3 separate regions of the Homo sapiens genome follow, and all the other regions are reported to be linked to region 3. Evidence: microRNA targets listed by miRTarBase, many of them from high-throughput screens and not tested one by one. Region 3 holds a microRNA gene; each other region holds the end of a gene's coding sequence. Distances are between the middles of the regions.

Region 1 (4,000 bases), 74 Mb from region 3:
AGGGGCTGCGGGGCTGGGTAGGGCTGAGGATGGGCCCAGCTCTCTCTGGGATGTTCCTGGGCTTTCTCTCTCCGAAGCTCCCTGCTGGCGGCTCGGGCTTCCTCTCTCCGCCCACAGTCTTGCACTCTAATACTTGTTTGCTTGCCTCTGACACAGCCGGTCCCTCTGGCTGGCTCACCCAGATGGATATCAGGAGCCTGGGTTCCACTGCGGAGGGAGGGATCAGATGCTGAGATGGAGAAAAGGAGGTAACGCCTGTATAATTGGGACACTGCCCTCCGCCTGGTCAGCGGCCCGGACTGATGCCCTGGAGTGCTTGTCCGCCCACTCCCCAATGTCCCCCAAGATCTGTTCCTCCCCATTCCCAGGCAGAGATGAGCACAGGGCACCTGCATTCCTACGTGTGAATCATCCGTGTGAATCACTAAACAGTGGAGAGTTGCACTTGGTCATAAATCACACGTGACTGCAGCCACACGCAGGTGAGTCGCACACGCATTCCAGCACATGTCAAATGGTCAGGAACAGCTCCCTGTCACCCCATACACCGATCCCCCCACGCATGGCCCTCTTTGTCCCCAGCCTTTGGCACGCCCGACCTCATTCTCTGCTCTGGAGTAGGGCAGGTCAGGAAAGCGAAATACAGCGCCGGCAAACAGGGTCTGAATGCCCCGCGTGGCATTCTTTCCGCTCCAGGACCGCCCTGGGCCTGCAGGATCCTGGGCGGGAGCCCAGGTGTCCGGGATCTGGGCCACTAGGGACTGGGGAGGAACCTCTCAGAGAAGCCCATAGCCCGCAGCGGCCCCGCGCGGCCGGTTCCGGCGCCGCACTGTTCCAGCCTCTACTATGGTACAGTCCCTGCGTCGCAGCCTCGGCGGGGGCTCTAAGAACGGGAGGCAGAAAAAGCTCAATCAGCAGCAGGCGAGCTTCACCCGCTGCTTCCAAATCTGTGCCAAAATATTCTATGCTGCACAGATAAAATCCTCTGTCGGTTCTACAAGCCTGGCTTTTCCTATAGAGAACCCTCTTATAAGCAAAAAGTAAAGCTCTCGTGAAGAGCCCGGATAGCTCAGTCGGTAGAGCATCAGACTTTTAATCTGAGGGTCCAGGGTTCAAGTCCCTGTTCGGGCGGCATGTCTTTGCTTTTGGGTACCGCACTTCGCATAAAATGGTAACAAAAATAGTTACTAGTTTTTAAAGCTAGGTGATACAGAAACTTGATTTCCACAAAATACAGCAAACGACGGTGGAGGGTAATAAACATACTTTAAAACAGTACAAACGCGAGCCGTATTATCGAATTTACATTTTCTGGTAGCCACATTACAAAGAATAAAAAGCAAGCGAAATTAATTTCACGGATCTATTTTACTTACCCTAATATACCAAAATCTTATTTTAACATATAATCAACATTCTAAAAATATTAATGAAATTTTAAGTCTTTTTGTTTGTACAAAGCCTTCCTTCAAAAGAAGATGTGTATTTAGAAGCTGGCAATACATCTGAATTCATATATTTCAAGTGCTCGATAACGGTGTCTACCATATCCAACAGCAGACTTTGTTTTGTTTTCGTTTTAAGTGACGGGTGTGGAAGACACGCAAAATAGAATGTCCAGTAATGTACACAATCTTGAAAGACACCACGAGGGAGGTTCCATGGTGTAATGGTTAGCACTCTGGACTCTGAATCCAGCGATCCGAGTTCAAATCTCGGTGGAACCTTGAAGCTTTTCTTTTAATATCAGCATGTTGAATATTGTTAATTGATTTTCACAGAGGGGATACTCCTATGACCCAAGATAATACGACAAAAAAAAAAAGTAAACTAGGACACTACCAATTATTTGTGCTTTTCCTACCGGATAATTGAGTCCTATAACACAGTGTTAAGAGAACGTACAATAAATTATTTAAATATGTTGGAAGTTGAGCTAACATTTGAAAACATGTTAAAATAGAGATGTTATGAAGAAACGAAATAATAGAGATGTTATGAAGAAACGAAATATTGCTTCAGCAGTTACCATCAGGTCTTAGCTTCTGGGATGGATGCAGGCCTATGATCTCTCTGGAAGACCAAACACGGAAGATGATGGTGAAACCATTACCAGGGGAATTCGTAAAATTACTTTCTGCATGTAAATAGGTGTAACCTCACAGAACTGTTAACAGAACTGTAGCAGGTGCGTAATCCACCAGAAAAACTCCAGCCTGGCAGCGGTGGGATTCGAACCCACGCCTCCGAAGAGACTGGAGCCTAAATCCAGCGCCTTAGACCGCTCGGCCACGCTACCTGCACGAAAACTTACTGTCCCCGTTGTCCTCCTAAGAGACTAGAAGTAAGGAATGGGGCAAATCTTAAGAGTGCCAAATTGATTCGTCTCCTTTTCCACATCTTTTAGACTGGAAATGAAGAACCATCGAGACTGTGGACCGCATAGCAGCAGATGGCAGAACAGATAAACGAGAAGAGACAAAAACACACAGAAATTTACAACAAAACTAGTTTATTTGGGTGGGACTATATCTGGGAGTGGGGAGCGCCTGAGCCGGAAACACCCCCCAAGCGGGCAGCCGGAGCTCTGCACTCGCTCGCTCAGCCATTTTCGGTTGCTCTCCCTCCCTGTTTTTTCGACCCATGTGCGCCCTCTCTCTCACCTGGCTAACATGCTTTGCGCCCGCTACCTCTACCTGGCTTGGCCTCTGAGATCCAAACCGCGCCCTCCTGGCATGTCCCGCCCAAGTCCCTTAGCCCCGCTCCCCAACCCTGCCCCATTCCCACTCTAGTACCCGTAAGCTACAAGACGCCGCCGTTCGTCGGGTGGCTCTGTGGCGCAATGGATAGCGCATTGGACTTCTAGTGACGAATAGAGCAATTCAAAGGTTGTGGGTTCGAATCCCACCAGAGTCGATTTTATTTCAATTTTTCCTTTTTATCCGTTTTTTTCTTAAAGGCCCCCATCCCTTCTCCCCCTACCCTATCTCTCTCTTTCCACCTGGTTTCAATTTCGATCTCAGTTCCCGCTCTGCTCTCTTCTTTACTTACCTGTCTGCCCCGGGGCTTGGGCCATGGAGAGCAGGACTGAGGGTGGGAGACAGAAGGGAAGGGAAAGTGGGCGTGGACGTCGAGATAAAGGCAGGCCCCTGGCTCGGGGACACACGGGGATTTAATAACCACTTTATTCCATGCACTAGGGACTCGGGAAGGGACTGGGACTGGGCTGAGGGGCAGAGAGAGTACAATCCTAGACGCAAGGGAGAAGTTGGGGCAGGGAAAAGGGACAGGAACCAGGGAAATATATATTTATATAGATACTCTAATATAGACCACATCTCACCCGCGCGCTGAGCCCGCGCGCCCCACTGCCCTCCCCAACACCTGCTCGCCCGGACGCCCGGGTCCCTCTGCTGCCCTCGGGCTGGAGTCTCTACCCCACCCCTAGACCCCGCCCCCACCACCCCCCAAGGCTCAGGGCCAAGGTCTCCAGAAAGCGGGCGGCGGGGGCAGCGGGGCCTTGGGCGCCCCGTCTTGTCTGTGAGGCGGCGGTGGCGGCGGCAGCAGTCCGGTGAGGGGCGCCGGCGCGCCAGAATCCCCGGCGCGCGGGGAGCAGAGGGATGGGGACCATGCGCAGCGCGGGCTAGGGTGGCCCTGGTGCACTGGGGGGCGCTGGTGCAGCGCAGGGCCAAGGGCCGGTGCGGCGGGGTCCAGGGATGGGCGCGGCGCTGGAGGCCTCGGATCTACCGGCTTGGGCCGGGGCGGTTTGGGGCGCAGATAGCCGTGCAGCGCGGAGAAGAGCTGGGCGCGGGCGGCCGGGCTGGCGTCGTGCGCGAAGGCCGCCAAGCGAAGCAGGCACTCGCGGAAACCGGACAAGTAGCAGCTGGCGAGCGCCTCGGCGTCCTGGACTGGGGACCGGGGAACCCCTGGAGCCGCGGCGGCTGGTGCGGCCGGCGGGAGCACAGGTGGGCAGGGCAGGGGCCCGGCAGGGGTGAGGGAA
Region 2 (6,182 bases), not on the chromosome of region 3:
AAAACTAAATGTAGATCATGTTCGTACAAGTAAGCATTTTCACAGATATGACACATACAAAGTGTTTAAGACTTAATTTAGCCTTACACAAATTGGAAAAATTCTGCATCTAAGAAGCTGCATGAAAATAATGAAAAGATAGCTCTTTGCAACAGAGTATCCACCCTATTCCACTTGAAGGAACTCTGGATAGAAATGGTATGGACTCCATAAATGGTAAAAGTATCAGATATAGAACTGTCTTTTTCTTACATTCATTTCACATAGGGGAGAATATCTGTGAATCTAATAAGGCCTTTGGTCTTCACATTTTCCTTCATCGACAGGAGCAACCTCAGCCTGGAGAAAAACTCTATAAATATAATGAACTTGAGAAACCTTTTAACAGCATTGAACCACTTTTCCAGTACCAGAGAATTCATGCTGGAGAGGCATCCTGTGAATGTCAAGAGATTAGAAATTCCTTCTTCCAGAGTGCCCACCTAATTGTGCCCGAGAAAATCCGTAGTGGGGATAAATCCTATGCATGTAACAAATGTGAAAAATCCTTCAGATACAGCTCTGACCTTATCAGGCATGAGAAGACTCATACTGCAGAGAAGTGCTTTGACTGTCAAGAATGTGGGCAAGCCTTCAAATATTCCTCGAATCTCCGGCGACACATGAGAACCCATACCGGAGAGAAGCCATTTGAATGTAGTCAGTGTGGGAAAACCTTCACGAGGAACTTTAACCTGATTTTGCACCAGAGAAACCACACAGGAGAGAAGCCCTACGAGTGTAAAGATTGTGGGAAAGCCTTCAATCAGCCATCATCCCTCAGGAGCCACGTGAGAACTCACACTGGAGAGAAGCCCTTTGAATGCAGCCAGTGTGGGAAAGCCTTCAGGGAACACTCTTCACTGAAGACACATCTGCGAACCCATACCAGAGAGAAACCATATGAATGCAACCAGTGTGGCAAGCCCTTCCGGACGAGCACTCATCTGAACGTGCACAAGAGGATACACACAGGGGAGAAACTGTATGAGTGCGCGACTTGCGGTCAGGTCTTGAGTCGTCTTTCAACCCTGAAGAGTCACATGCGAACTCACACTGGAGAGAAGCCCTATGTGTGCCAGGAATGTGGGCGAGCCTTCAGTGAGCCCTCATCCCTCAGGAAACATGCAAGGACTCACAGTGGCAAGAAGCCCTATGCATGCCAGGAATGCGGGCGAGCCTTTGGTCAGTCTTCACATCTTATTGTACATGTGAGAACACACAGTGCCGGGAGACCCTATCAATGTAATCAGTGTGAGAAAGCCTTCAGGCACAGCTCCTCACTCACTGTACACAAAAGAACCCATGTGGGAAGAGAGACCATTAGGAATGGCAGCCTGCCTTTATCCATGTCTCATCCATACTGTGGGCCCCTTGCTAATTAACTTCCATTTTGTAAAAATATAAACACATGGGGCTATGACTTTCCCTCGTAATACTCCTTTAGCTGCATCCTGTGTTTCAATGTATAATATTTTCATTTTGGTTTAATTGTAAGTATTGTCTTAACCTCCATTATCGTTTATTCTTTGACCCATCTATTATTTGGAATTAGATTTTTCAAAACTAATATGTGGATATATTTTCATAGAGGTATAATGACTTATAGTGAAATGCATACATCTGAAGTGTACAGTTGGATGAGTTTGACAGATGCATACATGCATGTAACCACCACCCCATTCCAGATATAGAATGTTTCTATCTCTCTGGAAGGTTCCTGCATGTTATATGGCTATTTCTTAGTTGCCTTTTTGTTGTTGGTTTCTAATTTAATTACATGGTGAGAAGAGTATGTGGCCTCTTTGTTACTGAGTCATAGGTATTTGCTGAGATTTGCTATTAGGTCTGGTGTGGCTTATTCTTCTAGCTGCCAACCCAAATTACCCCTTCCTCCTTAGAAAAGAACCTGGGTTTTCTGTTCAGATTGGCAGTGTGCACTATTAAAAAGCTTCCATCTCCCGGCTGGGCACGGTGGCTCATGCCTCTAATCCCAGCACTTTGGGAGGCTGAGGCTGGGGGATCACCTGAGGTCAGGAGTTCGAGATCAGCCTGGCCAACATGGTGAAATCCCCTCTCTACTAAAAATATAAAAATTAGCCAAGTTTGGTGGCATGCACCTGTAATCCCAGCTACTTGGGAGGCTGAGGCAGGAGAATTCTTTGAACCCAGGAGGCAGAGGTTGCAGTGAGCCGAGATTGCGCCACTGCACTCCAGCCTGGGCAACAGAGTGAAACTCTGTCTCAAAAATAATAATAATAAAAAAAAGCTTCCATCTCCCAGCCCTTCTTGCAAGCAAGGGCAGGCCATTTCCTCCGGTCCTGGCTAGTATGAATATGAGAAGTCACTGGATGTGACTCTGGGGAAGATATTGTGTTCAGGGATGGTTTCATGTAGCCACATCTCTCCACTTCTTGCCTTTTGGACAAGTAGACATGATTTCTAGACCTAGAGGAGCCCTCCTGTGACCATAAGGGTAAAAGCCGCAAGCTAAGAAGAGGGTGGCCGGAAGTCATAACCATCTTGCTTCTGTAATCTAAAAAATATTTAGGATAGATTTAATAGAATTGGCATATTTATGTGATTGCAGCAGCCCTGGACTATTTATTTCTGGATGTCCCATACATGAAAAATATGCACTTCTTACTGGTACAGTTTTCTTTTGTTTGTTTTTGTTTTTGGTGGGAGGTTTATTTCACCTGAATATAATTCCTAACTGATGCACTTAGTATATGTCAGTTTTTATAAATGCTTCATGGATGGTTGAAATCAATGTATTGTATTCTACAAATGTCTGCTAGATCAAGCAAATGTGTTTAAAAACCATCTACACATTTATAAATGTTGATCTGTGATCTAGCATTTATTGAGAGAGGTATGTTAAACTCTCCCACCATGATTATGTATTGCTGAAAAATCTTTGTCATTCTGTCAGTTTTTAAATTTATGTATATACATACATATATATGTTTTGAAGCAATGAAATTAAATATAGATACTGACATTTTTTACATTTCCAACAAATTGTTACTTTTATTCTTATAAAGTGATCATCCTTTTCCCTATTACTGAACATTCAACCATTCATTGTAATGATAGTAAATACTTATTTAGAGTTTACTATTAATAGATAGTAGCCACTGCCTGAAGCTTTGCATCTTTTAATTTAGTCCTCACACTGACACTTTGAGGTATGTACTGTTATCCCCAATTCCCAGATGAGGAAGCTGAGGCCCAGCAAGTTAAGGTGGGCTATCAAAGTCATCTGGGTGGCATGTGACAGGCCTGACTCTCTCTACAGTGGCAGACCCAGGGGACTAGTCTCCATTTTTACTTGTTCTTTTTTTTTTTTTTTTTTTTTTTTTGGTTTTAAAGTTCTCTTAGGTATAACTTACATAAACGTTAATAAATCTTAGGGTACACCTTGGTGAATTTTGTATATGTCTATACCCACCACGGTCTCCATCAAAATATTTTATCGTCCCAGAAATTTCCCTTGGGCCCCACCTCATCCTCAAAGGTTATCACTATTCTGATGTCTATCACCATAGATTTGTTTTTCCTGTTCATGTAAATGGAACCATAAACAGCCCTCTTGTGTCTGTTTTCTTCACTTAATATAGTGTCATTGAGATTTATCTATGTTGTATTATCAGTAGTTTATGCTTTTTAATTGCTGTGTAATAGTCCATAGTCTGAATATACCACAATTTAAAAATTCTATTCTGTTTACAAACATTTGAGTTCTGTCCTCCAGGTTCATCCATGTTATCACAAATGACAGAATTTCCTTCCTCATCAAGGCTGAATAGTATTCCATTGTGTAGATATACCACATTTTCTTTATCCATTCATCCACCGATGGACAGTTAGGTTGATTCCATATCTTGGCTATTGTGAATAATCCTGCAGGTTTTATTGTTATGAATAAAGCTGCTGTGAATGTTCTTGTTAAGTCATACTGTGGACATAGGTATTCATTTCTCTTGAGTATAAATGTAGGAATGGAATTACTGGATTTTGGAGGAGACCTATCTTTAGCTTTAGTAGATCTTGCCAGACAGTTTTTCAATGTGGTTGAAACCATTTACACCTCAATTTGTACATCAATGAATGAAAGTTTCATTGCTTCACATCCTTGGCAACATGTGGTACTGTCACGCAAATTAATTTGAGCTACATTAGTGGGTATGCAGCAGTTTCTTAGGTTTAATTTGCATATTCTTGATAAGTAATGATGCAGTGGTAGATGGTTGCCACAATGACTTCTTCTATCCCTCTATGTATATGTCTTTTCCATGTGACTTTGCAGCTCCTCCTATCAAGAGGTGGAGTTTATTTCTCCAAACCTTGAAGACGAGCTTGGTCATGTGACTTTCTTTGGCCAATGGAGTGTTGACAAACATGACAGAAGCAGAGGCTGGAAGAACACACGTTGGGCTTTTCCTTCTTAGTTGTGACCATTTGTATGTCATCTGTGGAAAAATGTCTAAGTCCTTTGACCATTTTTAAATTAGTTTTTTGTTGTTGTTGAGTTGTGGAAGTTCTTTATATATTCTGAATATTAACCCCTTATCAGATATATGATTTGCAAATATTTTCTCCCATTCTAGGGGTTACCTTTTTACTTTATTAATTGTATCCTTTGATATGCAGAAGTCTAAGATTTTGGTGTAGTCCAACTTATAGATATTTTTTGTTTTCTTTAGATGTCATATCCAAAAAATCATTGCAAATCTAATGTCGTGAGGCTTACCCCCTATGTTTTCTTCTAAGAGTCTTATTGTTTCAGCTCTTGCATTTAGGTCTTTGATGTATTATGAGTTAATTTCTGTTTGTTTGTTTGTTCGTTTTTGTGTTTTTGAGACGGAGTCTTGCTGTGTTGCCCAGGCTGGAGTGCAATGGCGCAATCTTGGCTTACCGCAACCTCCGCCTCCCCGGTTCAAGTGATTCTCCTGCCTCAGCCTCCTGAGTAGCTGGGACTACAGGCGCATACCACCATGCCTGGCTAATTTTTTTGTATTTTTAGTAGAGATGGGGTTTCACCATGTTAGCCAGGATGGTCTTGATCTCCTGACCTTGTGATCTGCCTGCCTTAGCCTCCCAAAGTGCTGGGATTACAGGTGTGAGCCACCATGCCCAGCCAAGTTAATTTTTATATATGGAGTAAGAAAAGAGTCCAACTTCATTCTTTTGCATGTGCATATCCAGTTTTCCCAGCACCATTTGTTGAAGACTGTCCTTTCCCCATTGAATGGTCTTGGCACCCTTGTCAAAATTCATTTGACTATAAATGTGAGGTTTTATTTCTGGGCTCCCTCCTCGATTCCATTGGTCTATATGTCTTATCTTTATGCCATTACCGTATTGTGTTGATTACTGTAGTTTTACAATAAATTTTGAAATAAGTGTGGTGTGAGACCTCCAACTCTGTTCTTTTTCAAGATGGTTTTGACTTCTTGGTTTGGTATTCTTGAGATTTCATATGAGTTTTAGGATGGATATTTTTCTGTTTCTGCAAAAATATTAAGTCATTCAGCCCGTGAACATAGTATGTCTATTTGTGTCTCTTTTAAGTTCTTTCAGCAATGCTTTTTAGCTTTCAGTGTACAGGTTCTTCATCTCATTGGTTAAGTTAATTCCAAAGTATTTTATTGTTTTTAATGCTGTTGTAAATGGATTTGTTTTCTCAATTTCCTTTTTGGGTTGTTCATTGTTAGTGCATAGAAATGCAACTGTTTTTTTGTGTTGATCATCACACTTCTTTTGCAACCCATATTATGAAGTGTCACTACTCTCCTTGGTCCAAGTTAAAATGCTTTCCTGGATCCAAATGGCATTTCTTTTGTGGGGAATTATCAACAGTAAAGATCTAGGTTGATCAAAACTCAAGTGTGAGAAATGACCAACAGGAGAGGGCAGAGATATCCATGGGATGGAGATGAAATAGCCTTTGTTATTATGGGTATATTATGGGCCTCTTTTCTCATCCAATCCAGGATGCTGACATTCAAGGTGACAGATCAGCTGTTCATCTTGGGCTGCACCTGGTGTTTGGGCATTCTGCAGGTGGGCCCAGTTGCTATGCTCTTGCCTATCTCTTCACCATCATCAACACCCTGCAGGGTGTCTCCATCTTTTGG
Region 3 (4,000 bases):
CTCCAGGTACTCCTGTGCGGCAAAAACATGCTGGTTATGCTGCGAGGTCCCCCAGCCGGCCCCGGCCTGTGGCTGGGCAGCCACTGCACCTGCTTCTTCTGCCGCATTATCTCCAGCTTCTGGGCCAGCTGGATCTGGCGCTGGCGCTCTGCCTCCTCGGCTGCCCGGCGAAGCTTCTCCCGGTGCTCTTCGCGCAGGGCACTCAGCGCCCCCCGGGCATCGCGGATCTGTGCCAGCTTGTCCTGCAGCCCCTCATAGTACACTGTGGGCAGATGACAGAGCAACCCTGACCACTCCGGCACAGTGCCGAGAAGCTCCTGGGTGGAACGGACACGCAGATGGGCCGCCCTGTGCCCAACCTTCTGCAGAGGGCTCTGAAGGTGCTGGGCTCTGGGGGAGGCAGGCAGAGGGTCCTGGGCAGGGCAGGGCAGGGCAGGGCAGGGCAGGGCAGGGCATGGTCATCACTGAGACCACCTCCTGTTGACACTCTCTGGAGGAAGCCACGGCCCCAATGAAGGACTCACAAGAGCTCAGCACCCTCAGGGGAGGCCCTGGCCCAGGATGGCGCTCACAACACCTGGCTGCCCCTGAGCCGAGGCCCCGTGGCGCGGGCACCTACGCCTGCGCTCGTCCAGCTGGTTGAGCAGCTCCAGCAGCTGCGGGTGCATGCCGTTGATGGACTGGAAGAGTGAGAGCACGGCCGAGTCATTGGTGATGCTGCGGCCCCGCATGTGGTTACTCTTCATGCGGTTCACGAAGGTGGTGACGGCGTTCTGCAGCGCCTTCAGGAACTGCTCGTGGCTCTCCTCAGACTCGCCATTGTGGAACTGTGGCTGCAGGCAGAGCAGGGTTCTGGATGAGTGCGGCCACGCCCCAGCCAGCCTCCCTGGTGGGGCCTGGGATGGAGGCACCCAGCTATACTCAAGCCTGGAGCAGAGTCCATCTGCTCCTTATGCAAGCAGCCCCTTCTACAGCTGAGGAAGGCGAGGCCCTGGAGGCGGGGTCCTTGTCCAGCTGCAAGCCCTGGTCAGGACGGAGCTGGCTCAGGGCCCCACTGCCAGCTCCCTCTCCAGGGACCTGTGCTCTGACAGCCAACCAGCCCACAAGCCCCAGGCAACGCCAAGGACTCATCTGATGGTTCTAGGCTGCTCTGGAATATTCAGGTCCATGTTAGGTCCACAGAGAGTGGCCCGAGCTCTGGACCACAGCCTGGTGTAGAGTTTCCATTGGGAGAGGCCACAAAGGGCAGGGCAGGGCAGGCCAGGGCTGGGCTGGGGCAGACACCCTTGCTCTAGCACGGCCCTCTGGTTAGGGCAGGCACCTGTGCCATGTGCCTGGCGCTGTGGGCCAGGAGGCCATGTTTTGCCCTGGCCCGTGGAGGGAGCCACAGCTTACCTCACTAAAGGGGCCACCAGAGGGAGGAATGGGCTGAGAGTCTGTCTCCGGGAGGGGGTTCTGGAAGAGAGAGAATGAGTGGGGCCTCCAACCTGTCCCGCATCCACCCCTTCCAAGGGACCCTGCCACTAGGAATGCCGGGAGTGGCCCCCTCACCTCCACCACGTTGGTGGGGGCTGCGTGCCCTTCCCCAGGCTGTGCAGCCGGCTCCGTCAGGGGCACGGGCGCAGATGGCGTGGGGCTCTTGCGAGCCTCCTCCTGCTTCTTCTCCCAGTAGTTCCGGTTGAGATACCGTGCGAGCTGCAGGCAATGAGGGGGTCACTCCCAAGGCCAGAAACCGTGAGAGGATGCACCCCATGCTGGGCCTTACCTCAGGGTCGATGTCCTCAGCCAGAGGCGCCGACGAGTTCTGGGGAGAAAAGGGCATCTGAGTCTCACAGGTGACAGAGCCAGTTGCTTCGGCAGGGACAGGGATGTCCCCAGTGCGACAGATCCTGGAGACCAGAGCCGCAGCCTGGGCCCTCCCTCCGTGCCCTCCTCTGGTTCCTGGCATCTGAGCAGCCATCTTTTCTCCTCTTCCAGATGCTTAGAACTCCACAGAGGCTGACAGCACTGCCGTCCTACAAGGCTCCTAACCTTGCTATGGGAGGAACAGGGTGGCACTGGGCCAGCCCTGGGGCCTCAAGGTGGACACTGGACAGCCCCCACGGTCCAGCGTGTGGGGCCCCAGCCGACAGCCCGGAAGGAAGGGAAGAAGGGAAGGGGTGGCTCACTGGGGCAGGGCTGTTCTGCACCCCTGGGCCTGCAGCGGCCTGGCCACTCCACGGAACCTACAAAATGACTTTCTCAACCTGCTGTCCCCGACCCAACCCCCTGCAAAACAGGCTGCCTCTTCACCCTCTACTGAGAGCGGGGCTGAGGCCAGGGAGAGGTGACGTGGATGCCCCAGAAAGCAAGTCCTTCAGTTCCTGTGGGGCGGGAGGGGTGTGGAAGAGACGGGGTCTCACCAGCAAGGCGCCTCCCCCACAGCCTGTCCCATGTCCTCAGTCCCAAGGGCCGAACCAGGGACCAGGAGCAACGGGTGCCTGGAGCCGTGGGGCTCTGCCCTGATGTCCGCCCGTGTGCTGGGGCTGTCCTCTCTGGGAAGCCCGGGGACCCGCATCCCCCACCAACCTGACTAAATCAGCTCAGGGACCCGCGTCCCCCATCAACCCTACTGCCTTCCAGGAGAGGGAGCTCCAGCCCAAGGGCCGCTCACCACAGGTGAAGAGTACAGGCTGCTGGCGGGGGGCGCTGAGGAGGCCGAGGGCATGGGCTCCGCCTTGGGGTACGAAGTGTACGTGGACTTCTGTCTCTGAGGCAGAATCAGAAGGGGCGTCACTTGGGTGCACGTGACGCCCCTCCGGCCCCACCGCAGCACATCCAGGGGAGCTGGGCCCCTCCTGAGGCCGCCCCGCCCCACCCGGCTTACCAGCCTCTCCTTCTCCTCCGCCTCTGACTGTGACAGCGCCAGGGCCAGCTGCAGCTCCTCCTCCTCCTGCAGGGCCGTCTCGTCCCTCTTGGGGGGCAGCTGAGGACAAGCGGGGAGGGTGAGGGGGGGCGCCGGGGAAGAGGTGCCCACGGGACGGAGGGGGCTGAGTACCTGGGACTGCTGAGACAGGGGGCTGGTCAGGTACTCGGGGGGCAGCTCAGTGGTGGAAGTGGCCTTTCCCTCCGCTTTCCTGTGGGCACAAGGAATGCTGCAGGTCACCATGCGCTGACACCGCCCTGCCCCCGCCAAAGCTCTCAACCACACCTCTGCGGGCTCCTCTAAGTGTCCCCACAGAGTGAGGACAGTGGTTCCACAGCCACAGGTGTCCGAATGGCCACACTCCAGAGCAGAGCAGGGCAGGACTCGAGGGCATCACACCAGCCACAAGGGCTCGGGTGAGTCCCTCAGGGTAAGCCCCAGTTCCTCTCCTGAAAATGGACATTCAGGACACCAGCCCGGCCTGCGAAGACCTTCCTACGGCACTCGGGAAACCAAACACAGCACCGCCACTGTGGGACGGGCCCCACCCAAGAAGGGGCAAACAGGTCAGTGACTGTCATGCCCAGTAAGCTCTTCCGGGGCGCCCCAGGCAGTCCAAGGGCCGCAGGCTCACAGCATGGTCGCAATTTCCAACCACGCACGCTGACCTTTGACCTGGGGCTCTTTTCTTTTTTTTTTATTTGAGATAGAGTCTTGCTCTGTCGCCCAGGCTGGAATGCAGTGGCGCCATCTTGGCTCACTGCAATCTCCGCCTCTCAGGTTCAAGTGATTTTCCTGCCTCAGCCTCCCGAGTAGCTGGGACTACAGGCATCTGCCACCAAGCCCGCTAATTTTTGTATAAAATACAAAAATTTTAAGTATAAAATACTTAAAAAGTAGAGACGGGATTTCACCATGTTGGCCAGGATTGTCTTGATCTCTTGGCCTCGTGATCTGCCCGCCTCAGCCTCCCAAAGTGCTGGGATTACAGGCATGAGCCACCGTGCTCGGCCGACCTGGGGCTCTTTCCTAAGAGAAAAGTCCACACCGAGGCAGACCTGCACAGCCCCCAGCACAGGGAAACGGCAGCAAGTG

What was found. Region 3 holds the annotated microRNA hsa-miR-6786-5p (GCGGUGGGGCCGGAGGGGCGU, at 2,790-2,810, opposite strand). A microRNA usually pairs through its seed, bases 2 to 8, with sites in the 3' UTR of a target mRNA and lowers its output. Matches are read on the target gene's strand: a 7mer-m8 pairs with bases 2 to 8, a 7mer-A1 pairs with bases 2 to 7 and ends in A, and an 8mer does both.
Region 1: miRTarBase lists HES7 as a target of hsa-miR-6786-5p. The part of its 3' UTR that is shown has no 7-base or 8-base seed match.
Region 2: the mRNA of ZNF333 is a reported target of hsa-miR-6786-5p. Seed matches in the 3' UTR shown: 7mer-A1 at 3,895-3,901.

What each region holds. Positions count from the first base shown.
Region 1 is chr17:8,118,097-8,122,096 of GRCh38, forward strand. HES7 (hes family bHLH transcription factor 7) reads right to left here. Exons shown (of 4, transcript NM_001165967.2): 4 at 2,496-3,941. The coding sequence ends at 3,475. ALOXE3 (arachidonate epidermal lipoxygenase 3) reads right to left here and starts at 418. Exons shown (of 16, transcript NM_021628.3): 1 at 390-418; 2 at 1-207. It overlaps TRK-TTT3-5 (tRNA-Lys (anticodon TTT) 3-5), which reads left to right and starts at 1,059; the gene lies at 1,059-1,131. TRQ-CTG1-5 (tRNA-Gln (anticodon CTG) 1-5) reads left to right here and starts at 1,656; the gene lies at 1,656-1,727. It also overlaps TRL-TAG1-1 and TRR-TCT2-1. RefSeq lists enhancers at 1-783, 505-584, 665-734, 885-984 and silencers at 1,505-1,554, 1,685-1,774, 2,145-2,354, 3,295-3,754, 3,975-4,000.
Region 2 is chr19:14,717,902-14,724,083 of GRCh38, forward strand. It overlaps ZNF333 (zinc finger protein 333), which reads left to right. Exons shown (of 12, transcript NM_032433.4): 12 at 327-3,998. The coding sequence ends at 1,424. Among named protein-coding and RNA genes, the nearest start is that of ZNF333, 31 kb to the left of the region's middle.
Region 3 is chr17:81,692,619-81,696,618 of GRCh38, reverse strand. It overlaps MIR6786 (microRNA 6786), which reads right to left and starts at 2,862; the gene lies at 2,750-2,862. HGS (hepatocyte growth factor-regulated tyrosine kinase substrate) reads right to left here. Exons shown (of 22, transcript NM_004712.5): 9 at 3,038-3,116; 10 at 2,867-2,965; 11 at 2,654-2,749; 12 at 1,766-1,804; 13 at 1,552-1,695; 14 at 1,396-1,455; 15 at 620-833; 16 at 90-262; 17 at 1-12. RefSeq lists a silencer at 3,758-3,943.